Linked DNA regions of Homo sapiens: region 1 is linked to region 2. Evidence: fine-mapped expression QTL. A gene starts in region 2. The other region holds a variant in brackets. All regions are shown on one strand. Distances are between the middles of the regions. Region 1 has its middle 75 kb from the start of DUSP6. Region 2 holds the start of DUSP6 (dual specificity phosphatase 6).

Region 1 (8,867 bases), 74 kb before region 2:
GATAATAGCCATTCTGATTGGTGAGAGATGATATCTTATTGTGGTTTTGATTTGCATTTCTCTAAAGATCAGTGGTGTTGGGTTTTCTTTCATATGCTTGTTGGCCACATGTATGTCTTCTCTTGAAAAGTGTCTGTTCATGTCCTTTGCCCACTTTTTAATGGGATTGTTTCTTTTTCTCTTGTAGATTTAAATTCCTTATAGATGCTGGATATTAGGCCTTTGTCAGATGCGTAGTTTGCAAATATTTTCTCCCATTGTGGAGGTTGTCTGTTTACTCTGTTGATAGTTTCTTTTAAGGTGCTGAAGCTCTTTAGTTTGATTAGACTCCATTTGTCCATTTTTGAAAAGCCACTCTTTTAAGTATTAGTATCATCCTTATCATAGGTTGAGAGTCTCACTCTACTTAGGGATGATCAGATCACATCTGAATATGGTATCAGTTTTGGTTCTTTAAACCCCTCTTTTAAAAAGTATAATGATAATAAAAATAACAGCAAATGCCATTTATTAGAGTGTCTGCACTGCATCAAGTGTTATATTTCACCTCTTTAATTAATCTTCACAACTTGCCTTAAACTGTGTGTAATTATCAACATTTTACAAATGAGAAAGAAAAACGAAACTGAAACACATAAATCCAGTAAGTGGTGGAGCTAGGATTCAAAGCTGGATGTGTCTGACTTCAAAGGACATTCTCTCCCCTTTCGTGCATGCTCAGAGTGATGAGACTTGAAACAATATCTAATAAGAAAAATGACAAGGGAATATCAAGAACACTCATAAGAACATAGCATTGTTTTTCAATGTTATAAAGCCTCTTACTAAGAAGATGAATCAGGATTTGTATGATAAGTATTAATAGAACCAAACCAAGGAGTAGAAGTTATATGGGGCAAGAGTACACTTCAACATAGAACGTTCTAGCAGAATAAGCAGAAGACAGAATAAGTATTCTTCTACTCTTTATGTCCATGGGTAGTGGAGTACTGGGGGTAGCGGGGGGGTGAGAATGGTTAATGGGTACAAAACAATAGAAAGAATGAATAAGACCTACTATTTGATAGCACAACAGGCTTACTATAGTCAAATAACTCAATTGTACATTTTTAAATAACTTAAAGCATATAATTAAATTATTTGTAACTCAAAGGATAAATGCTTGTGGGGATAGATACCTCATTCTCCATGATGTGCTTATTTCACATGGCATGCCTGTATCAAAACCTCTCATGTACCCCATAAATATGTACACCTACTATGTACCCCTCCAAAAATTTTTTTAATTAAAAAAAAAAAAAGATGGAAAAAGTTTCTTCAAGAATGGCCACATAACCACTTAGCAGGAATGTGGTAAAGTATCAGCCAAGTAGTTGTTAACAGGCGATGTTTGGGGTCCTTCTCAGACCTAATACAATCTCTAAAGCTATATCCATGCATCAAGGATACATAGGCAACAGGAATACTAAGAGAAGCAGAGGTCTAACAATTGGCAGTTATTGGGAGTCCTAGTAAAAAGTGACCAGCAAGAAAATGTACTGGATCACCAACTGCAGTGACTAAGATCTAGACTTCAGTCTCAGAAGAACTGGGGTTCCAGACAGGGAAAGAAAAAAGGCCACAACATGAGGGAGCATGGTCTCATTTCTGGTTGCTGAGCTACAAGTCTTAGGCAGAGTAAACAGAGTAAGGTCCTGTCTGAAGCAGGATGGCTCAGTGGCTCAAAGCAGTGAATGGTGTCGATTCAAATTTCTGTCTCACCACTGACCAGCTGTGTGTCTCTGGCCAGGTTATATTGTGAATGTTCACTAGATGTTGGTTCATATTATTATTATTTGTGAATATGGATATTGTCCCAGGATATGGGGCAAAACCAAGACTAAACACAGGTTACCTTTTTTCAGAAGATTATAGCAACATAGAAGGACATCAGTAAGCCATAGAATCTTCTACTTTTAAACCAGAAAATATAAAAGCTCTACTTCTGAGAACTGAGTCCTACTTACAGAAGCTTCTAAACTTAAGAAAAGCTAAGCTTAAATTGCAGTTAAAGTTTCCAGTCATGTTCTTTCCTTATGTAAAACAATTATATGTGTAGTTCAATTCAAAATGCATTCATGCATAGGGCATAAGGTTTAAGAATGTGGGCTCCACGACCATATTATCTGTGTCCAAATTCTATCTGGATAACTACTAGCTGGTTCATCTTGCCAAGTTATTTAAGATCTCTGGACCTCGCTTCTTTCATCTGTAAAATGGAGATGATCATAGTACCTACTTCAGAAGGTCAGGATAAGGATTTATAAGGAACAACAATGCCTGCCTGCAAAGCAAGAGTTGAGTTACCTATTATTATAATTCTGATTAATTGCCAGGCATTGTGATAGGTGTAGGAGACACAATGAAAATTTATATAATATATTGTTATGCTATGTTATATTACATTACATTACATTCTAATGTTATACTGTCTTATTAACTGTCTCACTTACTAGAAGCAACCTCCATGAGAGCAGGTACTTCAGATCCTAGAGGAGCTTCTGGGCTAGTAAAGAAGACAGATTCAAAAGCAGAACTCCACTGACGGAGTGTGGCGGCTCACACCTGTAATCCCAATACTTTGGGAGGCCAAGTTGAGAGAATCACTGAGGACAGGAGTTCGAGACCAGCCTGGGCAACATAGCAAAACCCCATGTCTACAAAAATAATAATAATAATAATAATAATAATAATAATAATAAAAACAAAAGAAGAATTTCAAATAACATGTGCCAAGTGCAATGATGGCTTAACCTTCCAGTGGGTATAGTGAGGCCAGAGTAGAAAGTAGCTAATTTAATCTGGGAACCCTTCCTGGATGAGGGAATGCCTAAAGTAAGTCTTCAAGAATGAGTAGATGGCAAAGTTCTGGTGGAATCTTTGGAATCTTTTAGTCAAAAGAGATTTCGCCCAAAAGGTTAGCAAGTAAAATCCTCTCCAGGTGTCCTAACTGATTTAGTATCAATAATAACAATAATCAACCATCAGATTAAAAGATTTGATGATATCCATTGAAACAAGAAAATCATTTTGTCTAATTTTGAACGAGCTGTTGCCCAGTGATTGACATGAATGTATTTCAGTTGGAAAGTATTGCCCAAATAATTGAAGAAGAAAAAAGTCACTGGAAAACAGGTAATAAGATTCACATCTTAGAGTATTTGGAAAAGGAAAGAATATGCAAAAGAAGCTAGCTTCTAAGTGGAAAAATATGAAATAACTAATGACATGTTACCTGTGACCCTGCAAGTGAACTGGATCCTCTTTAAGGGCAGCGGATGTTTCTTACACTTTTTGTAGCTCCAGCTCCTAAAGTAGTGCTTGGCAATAAAGGTCTAATTAATTAACACCTGAACAAATAGAGTTGAAATACTGGCTTTTTAAAAATAGGAAATGATAAAGTCATCTTTGAAATAAGCATAATAATTACCAACTTTTTTAAAGCACTTATTGCAAAGCCAAGCACTGCATTAAGACTGCACATGGATTATCACAATTTAGTCTTGTAAGGTCAGTCCTACTTTTATTCTCACTTTGCAGATTTGTTCACTGATTTAACAAATATTTATTAGAGAACTAATACTTTCCAGGCATTGTTCTGGGAGCTGTGGGCAGAGCAGTGAACAAAGGAGACTAAGTACCTGCTCTCACGGAGGTTGCTTCTAGTAAGGGAGACAAACAGTTAATAAGACAGTAAAACATTAGAATGTAATGTAATGTAATATAATATAGAATAATAATATAACATAATATAATAATATAATATGATAAATATAATATGAGTAACCCTCAGGGAAAGTGTTGGGCTATGATTGAGTCTGAAGAAAGTTCTCAACCAACCCCACAGGGAGCTCTCCAACTAGGATGGCCCTTCAGAGCTACCCAGATGGTTCCAGTCATGTGGACCTTTTTACCTCTGGAGTGACCAGACTTTGGATGCAGGCTGTGCTGGCAAGAGTACATGACCTTTCATGAGGTAGCTCTCTTCATCCAAAGGCAATTCCCAAAGAGGGCTAACAGACGAGGGCTGTCATTTGGCAACACTCCTAGCAGCTAGAGATAAGTCCTTCAGTCTTAACTATTGTGCTATGATTCATCATCAGTCTCTTGCCTACTAGAATGTAAGCTCCACGAGGGCAAATTTTTTCCCTGATGCATCTCAGGTGCCTAAAACAGAGTACCTGCACTTGACAAGCACTTCATAGGTGTCTGTTAAATTAAGGAATTAATG[G/A]CAATATATTATTCTATTATAGAACATACATCTAAACCAAAAGTTTCTAAAGGATGAGGTCACGATGGAATAGAATACGTTTTAATAATTTGTATTCATTATTGGCACAAAACTTTTCAAAATATGATTCTTTTTAAAGTCCTGCGTTAAAATTGTGATTAGTGATTTAAAAGTCTGTTTATAAGTTTAGTTTAATAGGCAATGTTAATGGCCATTGTAATGGGCTAAATTTTCTGCCCCCATCCCCCGCCCACAAATTTGCATGTTAACATTTTAATCCTCAGTAACTCAGAATGAAAACATATTTGGAAATAAGGTTTTAAGGAGTTAATTACGTTAAAATAAGGTCTTTAGAATGGGCCCTAATCCGATATGACTGGTTTCCTTATAAAGAGGAAATTTGGACACAGACATGCATGCACACAGAGGAAAGACCACATGAAGACAGAGGGTGACAGTGGCCATCTACAATCCAGGAAGAGAAGCCACAGAAGAAAAAATCATGCTGACAACATGATCTCAGACTTCCAGCCTCCAGAACTGTAAGGAAATAAATTTCTTTTGTTTAAACCACCCAGTCTGTGGCACCTTGTTATAGCAGCCCCAGCAAACACACAGAGCTATCATAGCTGAAAGAGGTAAGTACCAAAGCCACAGAATACTCAATATAAATAGAAACTTGGAGTGAGGACCCTCATTAACAATTGTGTGAATCCACATGCTCAATAATATTCTTGATCAATGAAAAAAAAGTTATGTTAATTCTTAATAGATCTGGCTCGCTCATTGCTTTTCTCTTGTCACATGGCAAAGTAAGCAAAAAGCCACCTCTACGATGGAATTGTACATTTGTTCTTACATTATTAGGTTTTTTAAATCTGCAGTTTCTCTGCAAGAGCCATTTTCTAGCTACTTGTCTATGTGGTGAGCATACATTTCGTTAAAACGAGATAGTGTAATCTGTAAAGCCACTTACTAAGCCCTACTTTGAAACTCTGAAAGCCAATAAAAAGGTGGAACTAATGGTCCCCTCCCTACCTCCACCTTGTGGAACTCCATTTCCCTCTCAGGCAAACTCCCACACTGTTCAAGATACAAGACAGTCTAAAATACAGACCTACAAAGAGTGCTGGGGTATGTCAGCACTAGGCCGTTCCATACGTGCTAGGAAGCTTAATCTCTTTCTTACATTTTCAGACAAAAATAAATAATATAATAGTTCTGGTATTTTCTCTCTAGACCCCAGATGATTGTCTGTAGCCAATCTCTGAGATGCATGAACCCCAATCTTGGAAACCAGTCTACTTGAATAAATAAGGAAAACAGCTGTTTCTTGAATTATTTCATAGACAAAAGCCATCTCTACCCTTGTTCTATTATGTGTAGAATTATCGAGGCCCTAAGTGATTTGCCACTCTTTGAAATGCCTCTTAAACAGTAAATGCCAGCCCTCACACTCCTTATTCAACGGCATTCACTGTCCTGCGGGTTGTACCACCTGATTGCCCAGAAGCATGCCCCTCTCTAGCAAGGACAAAATTGTGAAATCACTCAGCATTTCCGAAAGGAAATCTAGGGTCGAGTTTTATTCTTTGGTATTTGCATCTCTGAGTTAAACCCAGAGGATGCACAATTTAGAAGCGATATAATTGAATTTCCTTTCACCAGCCTGCCGGGGCTTGTTGTCTGTCACTCATCAAAGCCAATGTCTTTGTAAAAGGTTTTGAGAATCACATCTTAATGTCACTGAGCAGATAACATATTAACTGTTAATTGACACAGGAAAATGCCCCGGGGTTGTGTTCCTGTCTTTGTTGGGGGATGATAAGTGAGTTATTATTCATCAGTGCCATTTTTCTTATAGTTTTTAGTGAGGTTATAGTCTGAACTCCCCTTGCCCCCAAGCGTTGGTTTGGGTCATAGTGTCTCTGTTTGTACTAAGATTCGTTTGTTATTAAGTTATAATAGTATCTTTCAGAGTTTAAATGATTTTTAAACTGATTTTCCCTTGGGTAATGGTGCTTTGTTTTGTTTTAATCATACCAACAAAATTTCCTGGGAGGATATTATTTTTTTTCTCAGAATGTTTTTTAAATTTTAGATTCAGGAGGTACATTTGTAGGTTTATTACATAGATACGTTGTGTAATGCTGGGTATAGGCTTTTATTTAACCAATCACCCAAATAGTAAACGTAGTACCCAATAAGTAGTTTTCCAACCCTTTCCCCCTCCACTGTTTTTCGAGTCCCCAGTGTCTGTTTTCATTTTTATGCTCATGTGTACTGATTGTTTAGCTCCCTCTTACAAGTTAGAACGTGCGGTATTTGATTTTCTGTTCCTGCATTAATTCACTTAAAATAATGGCCTTCAGCTGCAACCATGATGCTGCAAAGGACATGATTTTATTCTTTTTTATTGCTGCATAGTACTCCATGGTGTATATATAGCACATTTTTAAAAATTCAGTTCACCAGTAATGGGAACCACAACAAAACAAAGATGTCCACTCTTATTCAACATAGTACTGGAAGTCCTAGCCAGAGCAATCTGGCAAGAGAAAGAGATGAAAGACATCCAAATAGGAAAAGAGAAAGTCAATTTATCCCTATTCTCTGGCAATATGATTCTATATCTAAAAAACCCTAAAGATTCCTCCAAAAGACTCCTAGTTGTCACAAACAATTTCAGCAAAGTTCCAGGATACAAAATCACTTTTTTCTTAGAATTAAAAAAGAATTAAGATAAAAAGTGTTTAGGTACTTAGGTCTAAATATTTGTATTTCTTCAAATTGTCTTCCATTCATTAAGGTCCTCATATTCATATATAATGTTAAGTAAAATGCACATACACCATTTTGTTTTTAGTTTTTTTCAACTCAATATCATTTTATGTAAGCATCAGTCAACTAAGAACTTGGGTGACTTTTAGTTTCCTATTTTTAAAATGGAAAGAATAACATCTACCACTTATGATTATTTTGTGGATTAAATTATGTTAACATTGATGAAATCACCCAACAAAATAAACTCAGTGAAATCTGAGTTTAATGTCAGTGTACTGATAGAGCCCACAACATTGTAATTTTTAAAAAGTAATTCCCACATTTTGAGACGGTTTATTTAGCTAGTTCATCATCAGTGTCTAAAAGGGAAATTGCTAAACACAATTAGTGCATTCATAAATTGTATTCCACATGCTTCTGAAAAGGATAAGTAACTAAAATTTGTCACTTCTCTTATTAATTTGTTGATTAAAAACACAAAAACATATTTATACAGTGCTTTGCCATTTGAAAATTTCTTCCATTCACCTATATGAATCTGTTATAAACTTCATAAGGTTGATAGATATTATTATCCACCCTTTATAGATGAGAAAATAATTGAGCTTCAGAAAAGTAAATAACTTGCTCACAGTTTGTGTTACATTTAAGTCTTCGCATTCCAAATGCAGCATTCTTTTCACCATAGCATACAACCTGGACACATTGCTCACAAGAAATAATTGAATTTTGGGGTTCTGTTTATTTTTGTGAGTTTAATAGGTTTTCAAAGACGCTATAACTTTTTTAATGTGTATTTTGTTATTTGCAAACAAAGCTGTATGATTTACCATATGTGAGCCTACTGAATTTTCTGTTATGTAAACTGTCTATTCACATCCTTTGAATAGACAGGAAGTAGAATCTTTCACCACATCCTCTTTAGCCTGCTTCTTTGCCCTTACAACAAACAAAATTCATTCCATCGTGCTCAGCTGACTGACAATAACACTTCAATGAAATAAGCTTGTTGGAAAAGGCCTTTTTCATAAAGGTAAGACATGCAACAAAAGTTATGAGAACCAATTCAACTAGAAACCTTTAGTGTACCCTGAATCCCACAGATAAATGACCCTCAGCGTTCAGCTCTTTGGAAAGCAGGATGTTTCTGTCTGTACATACGCAAAGTCCACCAACTTTAGTCCTATTTCTGACCATTTCAGCACTGTTCTGGATACCAAAACAGGGTTCCCATGTGTCTTTCAGAGAGGGAATTTCCTAGAACAGCAGCTGGCCTCCACTACCCCAGACTGCCCACACTCCCAGGGTTTGTCTAGAGCCCATCTGGCCTTTGAGTTGGGGGGGTCAGAGGGGGTTGGGCAGGGGTATAGTTCCCCAGGGCATTCATTCCATACAGTCTGTCTCAGCGAGGGACTTTTTATTGTTTGCTCCCAACCTGCAAGCCCTGCCAACTTCAGCATTAAAGCAGTTAGGCACAGTGATGTTTCCCAAAGGGAAAAGAAGGAAAAACTTTATCAAGAAAATTGCTCTCTTTTTAAACTCCTGACCTTATTAAACATTGGAGAGAACAAAAACTGCTGACAGTCTTAAATATGTTGAGTACAATAAGCCAAAATTAGTTCTCAGAGCTAAATCTTGGCTGTCTAACTTAAATGATTTAGTCACCATCTTTTGGAAAGGACAATATGAACAACAGAGTTTTCAATAGATCACTGAGACCCAAAAAGAAAGGCGGACTGGAGTGCAGTGGCGCGATCACGGCCCATTGCAGCCTCAACCTCCCAGGCTCAGGTCATCCTCCCACCTCAGCCTA
Region 2 (8,867 bases):
ACTCATGTGCCATGTAGGTGAAAAGCTCATTCTTCTCCCCACTTCACATGAAGGGACTGAGCTCATGCAAAAAGAGCCCCAAATATAAGTACGTTCTAGTTCTTTTGATTCCATACACCTGCCTTTTATTTTGGTTTGTGTATTTTTACATTTGAGGTAAGGAGAGGGTAGGTCCCAAGAAAAATGGCAAGATATAAAGTCTTTAGCTTGAAAAGAAACTAAAATAATCCCCACAAGTTTCAATAAGGGTTTCTGACCCACATCCCAAGCCAGTTAAACAAAAAAGCACATTACAACAGGGATGACAAAGTTGCCTCCTAAGTGCCAATGTAAAATTCTAAAGCCATATCCTGACACGGTGAGGAAGCTTAGATATGCCTTGCCATGCGCATGCTAGGGGAAAAAGTGGAGACATCATTCTGGATTCAGCATTCTCACACTAGGATATCTGCAGGTAGAATTGCCCATGACAACAGACTGGAAAAAGAATTATCCCTACTTCCTCTTTGGCATTATCTCAGCATTATAAAGCAGAAGATCCTGACAGTGAAGGATAGGGAGGAGGTTAACATGTGGCTGTCATCTTGGTATTCTGCTACACCTCTCTGTGGTTAATATCCAAATTGTATTCCTCAGCAAGCTATGCTCTATAGGTTCATTTTTCTTCAGGGGCTTTAAAATCTTAAGCCGGAACTATACTCATAAGAGGTATTGTTCATATACACGGTACAGTCGGTCCATTCTAGGATGTCATCTTTATTCGTGGCAAACGATGAATTTCATAAACTGCTGCTGAAAAACGTTCTAGGAAAAGCTTAAAAGAACCTTGCCCTACTATGCCTACAAGTCAAAATCAATCCCTGAATGAAAAAGTTCTAAAATGTGTCACTTCACACATAGGTATAACTGAGTTTTTAAAAACACACATTCAATAGCCAAAATAGTTATTTATTAATAATTTAAGGTTTTACATTCTTATAATAAATTCCAGCTCTAAACTTTACACCACGAACATAATGGAGAATTTAACTCTCCCTTCTTCACAATCAAATGCATTTCTCTTATCAAATGGGTACCCATGCTCACACACACACACTTCCAGTTTTATACAAATTTTTTTAAAGGAAAGAAACCAACCCAAAGTATTGCATTTGAGGTGACACTCCCTGAAGAATTTTATACAGAGGTAATATACTGTTTAGCACAGCTGAAGGTTTTTTTATTCTTTCTTTTTTTAAAGTGAGCCCATGATTTGGTGTCTTTCCCAGATTATCCCCTTTGCGACAACACAAGCAAAAATATTTACAAAGGTAAGGCATAGTCAAACTACATAAAGAGAAAAAATCATGAGGAAAATACATGAAAAAGACTAAAGACTTCGCCATAACAAGGTCTTAGTGATAATAGTGTCCGTAAAGATGTCATCAGAATTGGTAAAGTCAAGCATGCTGCAAATATACCCTTTGGATTAGAAAAGAGCACAATTTTCTTTTTTTGTTTTGTTCTGTTTTAAGAAGTGGCATACTGCTCTTTCTCCCTTTGGATAATTTCTTTTAAGCCCATCAAAGGAAAAAACAAACACAATTCAAACAAACACTGTCAAGTGATTCAAGATCAAATATTTACAATAATCAAATGGAGTATCAGATTTTTTTTTCCAAACTGATACCACAAATACAGAGCTGAAATCTCTCTTTGGCTCCTCTATATGCAAAATTGAATTAGTCTTCATTGAAGACAATTATATAGTCAGTTCCAGATGCAAAAGGAAACAGCCTTACAAGGCCCTAAAGAACACATGCTCCTACCCTATCATTTGGTTCTACCCTATGCGCCTGGAAGTCCTCGAATCCCAGTCCCTGCATGGGTAGGCTGTACACATGGGTACAGAGCAAACCTACTGCCTGTATCTATACAGCATGTCCTGTTATTCCAAAGAGAATGGAGCAAATCTCTCTGTTAGTATTAACCAATTCCGCACTTGGTAACCTTGTCTAGTACAGACAGCTGGTGTCATTTTGACACCTGGGGCCACACACAAAGAAAGCAGCCCAGCTGATGCTGCCAAGAGAAACTGCTGAAGGGCCAGACACATTCCAGCAAGGAGGGGTGTGGGGTCTTTCACGTAGATTGCAGAGAGTCCACCTGGTATACATTCTGGTTGGAAGGGGTGGTAAAATACAGCTGCTGTGCTGGAACCCTGTTGTCACATGGGCTGCTGAGTCCCAGCGTCCTCTCGAAGTCCAGCAGCTGACCCATGAAGTTGAAGTTAGGGGATATGTTGGATTTTTTCATTTTGACAATGTCATAGGCATCGTTCATCGACAGATTGAGCTTCTGCATAAGGTAAGCCACAGTCACAGTGACTGAGCGGCTAATGCCAGCCAAGCAATGTACCAAGACACCACAGTTCTTGCCCCGGGCTTCATCTGTGAACACAAAAAGAAAAGCAAGATCTCAGCAGACTGAAAACCACCCTTTGTGAATGATCAGTCTAAAAACTGAACTTGAAAACATAATAATAATAATAGTTGTGTGTGGCAGTTGAGCCCTACAAGCAGCAGAAAATGTATCACTGAAATGAAACATGTACACTGGACACAATTACATATTTCAGATATTTTCTGAAAAGAGAGCTTTTGTATTAAGTTTCTGCCAACAAAAAACTCCTTAATGGGTGCATTCTTTGCCTCGGCATGTGAATACCAGAAACCCTGCAATATGTTCGTGAATGCCTTTTACACAGACAACCAGACTGCAAGGGTCTATTAAATTATGCTCCAAATGTTGTGCAGCTAACAATGGAGGTATTCAGGCATTTTAAAAGAGAGAGGGAAGTCACAGGGGACGGCCCATTAGGAGGAACAGGATGTCGACACGGCCTGAAAATGAGTTCCTTTGTAATAGGAAATGCATTACAATGCCTGGAGATTCACTTCTCCCAGGCTTCCAGCCCACAGTTCTTCCTGCTGGGCTCAGGTTACCCACTGTCTCACTGTTACCAGTATCACCGCATCATTCAACTGGATAACATTCAGCATTCATACTGCTTTCCAACAACTAACTTGATGTCCTAAAATAACTCCTAGATGTTTTTAAATTATAAAGCAATGCTGGAATTCCTGTCTATAGTGAGTACTTCTATCTGACCCTTCCCCTGAGTCCAAAGACTGGGGGGAAAAATCTGTTGTCCGATTATGAACGACTGTCAATGACTGAATTCAAAGATTCAAGAAACAGCGTTTCAAATACACCTGTGATCTGCAGCCATGTCAAAAGGCAGGTTTTCTTCCTTTAGCAAGAAGATAAACCAGAATTAAGGACGCTCTAGGAACATTAGAGACCTGCAGTCAGACAAATTAGCAAGCAGCAAGAACGATTAACAGCTTAAACTCTATGAATGGCTAGGAATTTTGCATTTAAATGTCAGAGCGACGACTATTAATTAGTCTCACCTATGAAAGAAATGGCCTCAGGGAAAAACTGGGACAGGTTTTGGCTCCAGTGATCCGAGATGGGGATTTGCTTGTATTTAAACTCTCCTGCGTTCTCAAAGAGATTCGGCAAATTGGGGGTGACGTTCAAGATGTACTTGATGCCGAATTCCTCCAACACGTCCAAGTTGGTGGAGTCTTTGGCACAGCCCAAGTAGAGGAAGGGCAAGATCTCCACTGGGAAGGAAGGCTGGCTGTTGGACAGCGGACTACCATCCGAGTCTGTTGCACTATTGGGGTCTCGGTCAAGGTCAGACTCGATGTCCGAGGAAGAGTCAGAGCTGATCCGCAGGCCCCCGAGCCCCAGCACTGGCAACGGCGGCGAGCTGCTGCTACACGAGCCGTCTAGATTGGTCTCGCAATGCAGGGAGAACTCGGCTTGGAACTTACTGAAGCCACCTGCCAGAACGAGAAAAGCAATCATCTAACCTGAGAAGCCGTAGTAGTTTTCACAGCTTGTAAGAACCGCAGCCCGGCGCAAGAAACACCACAAGCATCCTACGAACCCCCTACATACAGAACCATCTATAAGAGAAACACACTTTAAATGTGCACCATCGGGAATGGAACGAACGGGCCCGCCTCGCCAGGGAACCCTTATTCGCTTGAATCCGGAAATAGACAAAATGGCAACTTTTTGGAATATTTTGAGAGCTAAGATGTGCCAATTTGCATCCCCAACAATCTCTCCCGTCCTGCAAATCTTAATTCAAAATCGAACGATAGAAAACAGGGTGATGGTGGAGGATGTTCTGGCTAAGAAGGCGCAGAACCCGTTAGAAAGAAACCGCCGGTACCCGCAGCCGGAAGCGAGTGGATTCTGAGCCGGCCCGGTTCTCTGGTGCGGAACGCGCGGTTCGCGGCCCCTACCTCGCCGGCTGCCGGTCCCTAGGCGGGCAGCGCGGCTCCGAAGCTCCAGCTGAGCGGAGCAGAGGTATTTTCAATCCACGCGCCCCGCCCGCAGCCCTGCGCCCCTAGCCCTGCCCCGCGCGCGGAGTTCCCTGGGCGCGTACCTTCCAGGTAGAACGCCCGGCAGCCCTCGTCCTTGAGCTTCTTGAGCAGCAGCCCGAGCACCGACTCGCCGCCCGTATTCTCGTTCCAGTCGCTGCTGCTCTCGTCGTAGAGCACCACTGTGTCGGTGCCACAGCGCCGGGTGAAGCGGTCCCGGTCCTCGCCGCGCGTGAAGAGCGCGCGCACCGGCAGGTTACCCTTCTGCAGGCGCCGCAGCATGATGCCCGGGATGGCCACGTTGATGGCCGACTCGATGTGCGACGACTCGTATAGCTCCTGCGGCCGGCAGTCCATCAGCAGCAGCCGCTCGTTGCCCAGCTCCAGCTGCTCGTTGAGCCACGCCACCGTCTTGCTGATCGCCATTTCCGACGCGAAGGGCACGGGTCTGAGCGTATCTATCATGGGGGTCGAGCTGCGGGAGAGGGCGGGGTGCCTACCAGACGCCCCTCGGGGCAGGCATAGGCCGAGCGCACCGCGCGCGAAGCTGCCGCTCTCGGAGCGGGGTTTAATTCCGCCTCGCCTTACCCAAGCCGAGGCTAGCGGTTGGGGCAGACGAGACAGAAGTAAAGCCGGAGGTTCTCTCTGCACCCAGCTGCAGCCGCTGGCTCTTAGTGTCAATGAATCTCTCTCAATGAAGCTGCCCAGATAGTTTTTGTTCCTCCCCAGTGAATGAAATCCAATTAATTCGGACTCCGTGCTACTGAGAGGGGAGGAAAAAAAGTCTAGCGGCTTCTAATCCCTCCCTCCAAGGCTGCACCTCAAATCTACCCGGGCGTCTTTCTCCCCGGATTATTTAAGACTCGATTTGCTATCTCTTGGACTCAGCCTCGCACACCCCCTGCGCGAGGCAGCTCCTCAATGGATACAAACAGCGAGCGTCTCAATGGATACATTCTCCGGGCCAGCCAATGAGCGTGCTGCGGAAGGGGCTGTTGCCGTGGGGACGGGCCGGCTGGAACAGGTTGTGTTGATGAATTGTTAATGAGTTTGTCATTCACAAAAACGGAAAGGAATTTCCGCTCCGGATAAGCCCCAGTGCAAACAAGCTGCAACAGCGGGCTCGGCGGGAGGAAGGAGAAAGAAGGGGAGGCGGCAGCGGAGGAGGAGCAGGGCACATAAACCAGGGCACTTCAGTTGTCTCATGTTTCCTTCTGTTGAGAGTTCACACTTCGCGTCGGAACTTTTGCGCACCAATGGCGCAATTAGCATGCACAAAAGCCCTTGTTCGCGACGCTTGCGTTCGCGAGCTAGCTTTAGGAAAACTTGTGCTGACTTTTCGTTCTTTGTATTCCCTTCAAACTCATTTGGACCCAAGTTCGCCTTAACCCTCCCCTCCCCCAACCCCCCTTCTTTAGGCGGTGTGTGGCATTTGTTTGCCACTTTTAAAGGCCCAGCTCTGTTTGCTCTGATGTTCTTTTAGCCGAGGCTGTGTTGGGGCTGGTGAACTGACTGGGCTTTAGTGACCGATGAGGTGTTAAATGCTAATCCAACATATTTCGAAACAAACCAGGATTTTGTTGAAACATTTTAAAGCAAACAAACAAACGTCTGGTTGTGCAGAAAATCAGAAGAAAACCTTTTTTCTTAAAATAACATTTTATTTTCATTAAAACAATGTAGAGTGCAGAAACAAACTCTTAGGTCAGTCCAGTGCTTTTACTGTATTCCGCTCCGGCGGCGTGGGGAGTTACAAGCCATTGTTCGGGGGAATCTATATCTCTCCCCCCGCCCCACCACCACCATCGCCTGCTGGGAGGTCGCGCTGGTTAATGATTTCTGGGCAAGGAGCTCGGCTTCTGACGGGGGAGCCGGTCTGGCGGGGCTGCCTGAGCGAGGTGTGCTGGGACGCGCCGGGCCGGGCCAGCAGTCCCCGCCATGGGCGAGGCGTGAGGAAGTCCTCCCGCAAGACCTGCAGGCTGCGGGGGCTCGGCAGGGGGGCTCGACGATTGGTTACAGTTGGCAGGGAGGCATGTCAGAGGGGGCCTCCCCAGCCCTCTCCTGCCGCCGCCTCCTCCCTTTGTCCAGCGCCGGGCACTCCGGGGAGCACCAGCCGCGCCTGCGCGCTGCGCTCCCTGCCACCGCCCCGCCGTCCCCGTCTCCCCGCTTGGGCACGGGGCTGTGCGCGACGCAGTGGACGGGTGCGGGGCTCAGCGAGGGACTCCCGGGTCCATAGAGATCTGGGGAGGGTGGGGGGAGCAAGGACGAGTGCCTGCCGGGACCCCCCTGGCTCCTCGCTCCCAAGGAGTCGAGGGGAACGTCTCTACCGCGCTGCAAAGCCAGCAGGTAACTTTGGGGAGGTGCGGGCCAGGCCAGCGAGCAGCACTCGGCCCAGGCGCCGCGGGGCGGACGGATTGGAAGCCGGATGGAGGCGTGGCCGGGTGGGGGCCGCGGCGGCGGGGAGGCGCGTTCCCGGCGCGCAGAGCTCTATTGTTATATAAAAGTGCCGAAGCCTGCCCCTCCCGAGCGGAAAACCACCTGTGTGCGGCCGGCGCGGCGCGAGAGGGATGCAGCCGGAAGGCGCGGGCCCTAATCCGGCCTTCCCTCCCTAAACCCCGGCGGAAAAGAGGCCGCGCTTTGTCCCACCGCTGCCTGAGAGGCGGAAGCGGGGGCAGCCGTCCGGCGGGGTGCGGCTTTGGGGAGTGTCCCTTGCTGCGCTTTGCGCCTACCGTGAACACCGCGAGGGCGCCTAAGGTCGCGGGGTCTCCCTTCGCCCGACGCCCCGCACCCACGGGCATGCCTGCTAACACCCCCGCTGCAATTTGCATTTTTAGTCACCCGCCTCTTCCCTGGTTTGGGAAATGTAGGCTAAAAAAAGGCGGCTGCGAGGCCTAGGTTGCCAATTTTGGAGCTCTGCTTCAGGCAGGCCGCCCCTGGAGGAGCGTGTTCGACAAAGGTGGGGATTGCCGAGCTCCTCTCCGCACCATTTTTGGGCAGTCCTTGGAACAAAACTCGTATATTTCACTGGGTATCTTCTAGTTTCAGCCGGGGGAGGCCTGCGCTGGAGTTGACTCCCCCTGTCCTCCACGATCTGTCACAGAAGTTCCCACCCCGAGACGTTTCAGTCATTGGGACCTGGGGACAGGGAGGGAAGAGGCAGGATGCCCTTCAGCGGAACTGAGAAGAGCAAACCTGTTGGAGGTTCAGCACAGGACCTCCAACAGAAGAGAAAGGGAGGGAAGTTGGGTTTCTACTTTGCCTGTTTTAATACGCAGCTACTTGAGTATGACTATAGATTCGGGAGGATACATCGAAACTGTAGTTTTACCCATGCTTCTGAACTTTATCGCCAAGGGAATGCCAGTGTTTCCTGGCGCATTGATTAAAGTGGCGTTCTGACTGCTCAGTACTAGAAATGCTGCGAAAAGGGCTTCTGGAGTGGGACGGCCCTCGTTTGCATTATGTCCCCCGCTTCTTCCTAGGTAAGCGCCCTTAGTTAAATCATTTAGCCGTTCTAAGTTGCAGTCTTCCACGTCGGCATAACGAAGATAAAACTATCTGCTTCATAGGGTCCCTGTGACGACAAAATGGGTACGGTGAAACGTCCTAAAGTGGTGGTGGGGTGCTATTAGCCGTTGGAATTAATTTTTCATTCTGAATTGAGGACCTGTAAAAAGGCCTCGGCTTGGGGACACGGTTTGGGCATCCCACAGATGCCCCTTGAGGCTCGCTTGACAGCCCGCCTGGACTCGCTCATCTGCAGCAAAGCCCTCTGAGATACTACCCTAACCGATTTAATCCGTTCCAATTCAGCTGTCAAGTAAAGGGGGTGTTATCGTAGACCAGGATCAAAAATCCTTTAGCACAGTTATCAGAATGGACCCAGCTACATTTCTGATTTCTCCCTACTGGTCACCTTTGGAACACGCTGTTCTCCAGCCACAGCAAACTGATACAACAATGCATATTGGGCACTTAACTGCATGATGGGTACCGTCTTGTTTCTGTGTTTACTTGCATAATTTCGGACAGTCTTCAGAAAAAACATGTAAATTATCCCATTTACAAAGATTAAAGAATTTGCCCAAGGGCACACAGTAGCAACAGAGTGTCAAGACGTGAGGCCAAACCCTTTACAGACTCTTAAGGATGCCCACATGCACGGATTACATAGAGTGTTATGGACACTATATTCACCTCCACGTGGTATTCCCTGCCCACATGTGAAGAATTTCAAGGTCAGCATTTTGAATTTTGACCTCCAGGCTTTCTCCAGCCTCACGTTTTCTGTTGCATCCTCCATGTCAAAGATCAAAAGCGAGGCTGCTTTCCCTGCTCCTTTTACACACCAGTGGTTTTCTTTGCACGCAACCCTTCATCAGTCAAACATTCACTAAATGTTGCATATTTTATCTCTCTTAGAAT

Evidence for each region.
Region 1: its variant is fine-mapped to the expression of DUSP6 in whole blood (TOPMed, PIP 0.91).

What each region holds. Positions count from the first base shown.
Region 1 is chr12:89,273,053-89,281,919 of GRCh38, forward strand. No RefSeq gene overlaps it. Among named protein-coding and RNA genes, the nearest start is that of DUSP6, 75 kb to the right of the region's middle. The variant G/A (reference allele first, on the strand shown) is at 4,271.
Region 2 is chr12:89,347,133-89,355,999 of GRCh38, forward strand. DUSP6 (dual specificity phosphatase 6) reads right to left here and starts at 5,369. Exons shown (of 3, transcript NM_001946.4): 1 at 4,508-5,369; 2 at 3,456-3,893; 3 at 103-2,429. The coding sequence starts at 4,907. The coding sequence ends at 2,122. POC1B-DUSP6 (POC1B-DUSP6 readthrough) reads right to left here. Exons shown (of 11, transcript NR_189589.1): 10 at 3,456-3,893; 11 at 933-2,429. RefSeq lists enhancers at 2,591-3,225, 3,861-4,495, 7,545-7,594 and a silencer at 6,315-6,624.